Regions from separate parts of the Homo sapiens genome. Here region 2 is linked to region 1. Evidence: fine-mapped expression QTL. A gene starts in region 1. The other region holds a variant in brackets. All regions are shown on one strand. Distances are between the middles of the regions.

Region 1 (2,905 bases):
AGACTCAGAGAGATCAACTGCTTCATGGGAAAGAAAGGGAAGCCCCAGGGAAGAGAGACAAGAAGCATCGTGCCTATCCTAGGGTACTTTGTGTGTCTCCTCTCTATGCACTGAAAGGGCTCTTTGTGTCACACTCACACTCACACACCCGGCGAGTCTGTGTGATTTATTGGGGGAAGGAGGGGCAAGAAGGGTGATTTTATTATCCCTCTTCCCAGTGAGTCCCAGCACATCTCTGCTGGGCCCAAGCTCGGTGGCCTCCTTCTGGCCCAGTCCCCTCCGCCTGTGGCCGCAGAGATAACAGAGGGGAGGAGCCCAAACAAAAACAGCCATGGATCTAGGGAAGTAGAGAGGAAATCCAGCGAGGGAGCCGGAAAGGAAGGAGAAAAGAGCTGGAGGGAGCAGAGGGGTGGGGGACAGAGGAAGAGGAGGGAAGGCTCCAGCACAGGGGAAAGGGGAAGGGTGGGTGGGTGGTGGCACAGGAAGAGTGAAGGGGAGGATGGGGGAAGTGCAAGGGAGGTGCCAGAAATAGGCAGGAGGATGGGTTGGAGAAGGCGACCGCCGCCGAGGGAGGAGGCCGAGAGGTGGAGGAGTGGGGCAGGGGTTGGGTGGGGAGGGAAGCAGCACGGGGCATCAATTATTAAGTGATTACATCATCCCTGACATTAAAACAACACACACAGCCCCAGTCCCCGCGGGGGGCCCCAAAAGGAGGGCGGGGGCGGAGTCTGGGCCAGCCTCGCCCCCAAGCCAATTCCCATTTTCACCCGGCGCCCGCTTGCGGGCGAGGAAATGGGGTCCCCATCCCCGCGCTGCCTCGGGGCCGCACCCCGCAGGGGTGTCCTCCGGTGCAACCGCGGGAAGACCCCAAGCACCGACTCCCCGGCAGCCCCGCGGAGCGCCCTGGCGGCCAAGGGACCGCAGCACCGGGCCCTGCGGCGGGGGCGGCGTGCGCGGGGGCGCCGGCGGCCGGGCTTCTCCGCAGCATCCCCGAGGCCTCCCGCGACGCATCCCCGCCGCCTGCTTACCTGCGCGGCGCTGAGGCTCCGGAGCCCACTCACATGGTCCTCTCCCCGCCCTCCTCCGGCGCGGCCGAGGCGGCTCCGGGGGGTCCCCGGCGGGCCCGGGAGCCGGTGGGCCTTCCGAGAGCACCGAGGGGGCGGCGCCGGGGTGTCCCCGGCCCGGCGGCCGAATCCCTCCCTGGCGCGGGCGGCGGCCGCCGGGCGGTGCGGCGCGGGCGGCGGCTTTGTGTGCGCCCGGGCGGTCCTCGGTGCGCTGGGAGAAGCGCGGCGCGCCCGGGCGGGAGAGGACGCGCCGCTCGCACAACAACCTCGCCTCTACTCTCGCCGCCGGGCGGCGGGCGGGTCTCGAAGGCCTTCGGCTCGCGGCGACCCCTCCTCCTCGCCCGCGGCAGCCCCCTCCTCGCCGGCTCCGCTCCTGACAGATGGCGCAACTGCAACGACGCGCCGCCGCCACCAGCGCGGCTGCTCGCTGCTACTCTTGCTGATGCTCTGCCCCTCCAGCTCCGGAGGGGAGCGAGGAGGGGGCGGGGCGCGCCTCGAGAGTGACAGGCCCGGCTGCCCTATCAAAGAGCCCCTTGGGAGCTGCGAGCCGCAACCATTGGCGCCTGGGGCGTGGGCGGGACGGCAGTAGGTGGGGCCGCCGAGTGGGTTGAGCGTTACTGTGGCAGCGGGCATCCCAGGGTGCGTGCGGTGCAGGGTGTGCAAGAAAATGCGAGGTTGGAGGAGGAGGTCTGTGTGTTTTTAAGGATTGTGTGGAGTTGTGAGGTGGCGGAGTAGGGCGGGAGAAAGAGCGGAGAGTGTGAACTGCAGTTTCCGCTTTGCGGAAGGTTGCAGCTGCTGCTGCAGATTGGCACCTGCCATTCCCCCAAAACCATGGGAAACTGCCTCGAGACAGGGCTATCTTGCCTTTCTGGTGTCTTTTCATTTGAGGGTGAGAGGATGAAATGGAAAATTGGGCGGTGATAGCAGCGTTTTCTTTGATCAAACTGAAAAGAGTACGGAGCAAAGTAGAATCCTGTCCTGAAACGTGGAAACGCACAACAAATAACAATGAGGAGGAGAAGGAGATTAGGATCATTTTATCAGTCCCCTATTTCTGCGGACACTCATTTATATTTTTTTTCTAGCAAAAGTCTGGAGGAAGTATTACTGAAATAGGGGGAGGGGCCAAGCGGCGACTAAGGAACCTGAAATGACAGAGATTTGTTCGTACATTCCCCGCCCCACCCCCAAAAAACCTCGTTTAATTGTAGTCATTGGTTGTCTTTGGTTTCTCATAACATTCAAACTTCTCATGTTTTTTTCCCCTTCACTGAATCTGAGCTTTTGCTCATATTTCCCTTGATGAAATAATTGCCGGTTTAGTATACAGTTGGGAGTGCATCGGTCTTTATTTCCTATCCAGCTTTTCTATGGCAGGATGTAACTTCATAAAAAGAAACACTTTGGCTTCCTGATTTTCTTTATAGGTAATTCCTGTTTACTGAAAGTTCTGCTTTAAGGCATACTCAGAATCGCTCTCCTTAATGATTTTGGCAAGAACCCTACCTTCCCCCTCAGCAAATCTAATGTTCTAAGAAATTATAAGTGAATCAGCTTCTGCTTCTGTGCTCAAAATCTATAATATTGCCTTTCCGGCCCACTACTTGTTTTTACTGTAGTTTAAAAAAATCTGTCCCTTTTGCTGACTTTTTTCTTTTTGTACACACTACTTTTTAAGAAAAGTTGCTAACATTTATTAAATGATCTGCATCCTATGGAGGAGGAAACTGAGGAAAAGAAAAGTTAAGTAACTAACTCAAGGTGACAGTATACAGAGGTTACTGGATTTTTTTCCTTTTCCTTAAACAAAATGACAAATTAAACCATGTTTAAATTGTGTC
Region 2 (2,905 bases), 210 kb before region 1:
GTGATTGTCTATTTCTCCTACAAGCAGGACACAGTAAATTCCGGTTAGAAAAAATGTCTGATAAATTCAGATGGTAAGGTATGCCTACTTTTGCTTTAATGATCCTCTGAAATAGCTGGTCAAGAGCCTACCCTTTCTAGAGGGAAAAGAACTCTCCAGATGTTCTGAATGTTTCTGTCATTTGCAAGTCATCGCACAAAGGCTAAATTCACCAGGTGATTCCATACCATCTGGTGTGGGACAGATGTGCCACAGAACTACGAGTACCTTCCATGATTTAAACAAATAAACAAAAAAAAAATTCAAATGTAAAATGCTCTCTTTTTAATTACTAAATTAAGAAAGTTAAACAATTTAAAAATGTAAACTCACAAATAAATCATAACAAAAAAGGAATTAAGACTTCAGAGTTGCTAGTCAGTATTAAAAACTCAATAGAAATAGGATTTTTGATTTGTTGTTGTTAAACATATGTAATTTAAGGTTGGTACAAACAGCAACTAAAAATGTAATACTTTTTTGTTTTTGTGCATCCCCATGAAATGTAAAGTAGTGCATAGTTATTCCACTGGAGAACTCCTGGACATATAGAAAGTCATTCGTTAGCAGTACAGGACATTTAAAACACTTATTTTACAATGGGAAATGTACAACCCCCACCCTCATTTCCCCCAGAAATTTTAGTTGCATGAGAAAGTTTAGCGGGTTGCCATGACTACAATGCTATGGGTTTTAGATCACTTAAATGTGGTTACAGGTTTATTAAATTAAAAATGTCTGAAACATTTCAGCATTCATATTTTTATACAAGAAGTTTGTGTGGTATCCATCTTCCAGTTCTCTTGGTAGTATCAGCCATTTGCTTGCTTATTTTTAAGTTTTGAGAACAAATCGCAGTAAGTTGAAGCAAATAGTGCTAACAGAACTTGTAAATTCAGCTTGGGGGGTGGTTCCTGAAAAGAGTCAAAGTAACAACCACCTACAGGTACAGTCATGAACCAGGAAAGTGCAATCCAAATGAAAAAATTCATGCTTTGCAAAAGCCAAAAATGAGGCCACTGGTGTTTTCAGAATAACACCGGTGCTTTGATGCTGACTTGCAGTAAAATCCTCCCTCTGGGTCCCGCAGCTTGGTGGCTCAGGCCGGCCACAGTCTCCACATTAGCACCCACATTGTATATGTACAGGGACATATATATTATATATATTCATATTTATAAAAAAGAAAACAAAAACAAACACCTGTCCTGATTGGTTTTTGTTAAAACATGAAAAAAAATTTTATTGTTTTAGACAAAGAGGCCACTTTTGGAAAATAATACTTTTTTTTTTTTAGTTGAATCAGGTGAAGACAGAGTTAAAATCACATAGGATTTGCATTTTTAAAAAAGGAAAGCACTAGGATTGTTGGCACTGGAGTAACTATTTACACTGAACAGAGGTTTGGCCTTTTACATAACATCGATACAATGCATTTTCCAAAGTCTGAGAAATAACAAGGTTCTGTCTCGAATGCTTCACAGAGGAGGTTCGGATTTGGGGACAAGTGTCATTAATGAGGGCCATGGAAGTTCGTCAGCTTCAGAGTCACATGCAATCTGATCCTGGGCGGTTCCGCTGCTGGGGAGCAGCTGGCTACGGAATTGAAAGCTAATGGGGAGGGGTGGGGCAGCCTCTGGGACAAGGCCTCTCTCCGCAGACCCGGGCCTTACAGGTTTTCACCAGGTTGGTACTGGGGCTCTGTCGCGGTAAAGTAGTCTTCCAGGAAGCTCTGCAAGTACTCAAAAGTGGGGCGTTCTTCAGG[G/C]TCCTTTTTCCAGCAGTGGATCATGAGCTCATGCAGAGAGATGGGGCAGTCCTGCGGGCAGGGCATCCTGTAGCCTCGCTCCACCTGCTCCAGCACCTCCCGGTTGTTCATGCCTGCAAAGACAAGCGCAGTGAGAGTGGGCACCCCGGGGATCCAGGCCCTGACCGCCGCACTTGCAGATCCCCTTTCTTCTTCTTTGCGTCTGCATGTGGCTAAAACATGCGGAGTACTCCCATCCCCCCAGGAGTCAAACCCTGCCATGCTACTCAGGAGTAAAGAAGGAGTGCAGAACTGAGACATGAAAAATTCAGAATGACTCTCAAAACATGATAAGTGAAGGAAGCCAGACACAACAGGCAACATACGGTATGATTTCATTCATGCGAAATTCTAGAAAAGGCGCAACTACATCTATAGAAAGCAGATCAGTGGCTGCCTGGGGGAGGGGAGGAATCCCTGCCAAGGGGCCAGAGGGAACTCCAAGTGGGATGGGAATGTTCTGTCAGGGTCAACGGGTCAACAAACTTTTCCTGTAAAAGGCCAGACAGTAAATATTTTTGGCTTTGCGGGTCACATATGATCCCTGTCTTCTTCTTTTTAACAACCCTTTAAAAACGTACAAAACAAACACAGGTTGGGAGCCAGACCTGCCAACCCCTGTTCTATATTATGTATGGGGTGGTGTGACTGTTTATGTTTGTCAAAACTCAATAAACTGCATCCTTAAAATTGTTGAATTTTATTGTGTGTAGATTATACTTCAATTAAACTGACAACAATATATGAATAAAGCAGACAAAAAAATCCACACAGAATGAAAGCATGCTGCCCCTTGTTTATAGCATTTATAAACTCCATTTATGAACTTCATAAATTCGTTTTCTTCATGCCTGGGCAAACTCTTAGTTCCCCACTGTTGGAGATCTGCCATCATGCCAGCGTGGCTGGGCACTGTCTGGCCCTGCAACCCCACAGTGCCCTGAGGTTTGGTGAATTTGATGGGGAGATAGACCATGTCCGGGGCCTATCTCTACTGATGACTTCAGCCAGGCCATCCATCATTTGAGGTTTTTCTGACTCTTGGGAAGCTGTTGAAACACT

Which allele goes with the higher level. Positions count from the first base shown, and alleles are read on the strand shown. Sizes are in standard deviations (SD) of each study's normalised expression.
For the expression in B cells of the gene that starts at base 1,513 in region 1, G is the high allele of the variant in region 2 and C is the other (large effect, 2.5 SD a copy in Fairfax 2012).

The links. PIP is the estimated chance that this variant, and not a neighbour inherited with it, causes the effect.
Region 2: its variant is fine-mapped to the expression of FYN in B cells (Fairfax 2012, PIP 0.95). The same link has a PIP of 0.9 or more in NK cells, monocytes and monocytes after LPS.

What each region holds. Positions count from the first base shown.
Region 1 is chr6:111,871,940-111,874,844 of GRCh38, forward strand. FYN (FYN proto-oncogene, Src family tyrosine kinase) reads right to left here and starts at 1,513. Exons shown (of 14, transcript NM_002037.5): 1 at 1,029-1,513. It overlaps LOC102724646 (a long non-coding RNA gene), which reads left to right and starts at 1,513. Exons shown (of 3, transcript NR_168402.1): 1 at 1,513-1,751. RefSeq lists silencers at 633-1,032, 1,183-1,432, 1,553-1,642 and an enhancer at 1,085-1,584.
Region 2 is chr6:111,660,031-111,662,935 of GRCh38, forward strand. It overlaps FYN (FYN proto-oncogene, Src family tyrosine kinase), which reads right to left. Exons shown (of 14, transcript NM_002037.5): 14 at 302-1,917. The coding sequence ends at 1,709. Among named protein-coding and RNA genes, the nearest start is that of TRAF3IP2, 56 kb to the left of the region's middle. RefSeq lists enhancers at 1,332-2,015, 2,016-2,697, 2,698-2,905. The variant G/C (reference allele first, on the strand shown) is at 1,805.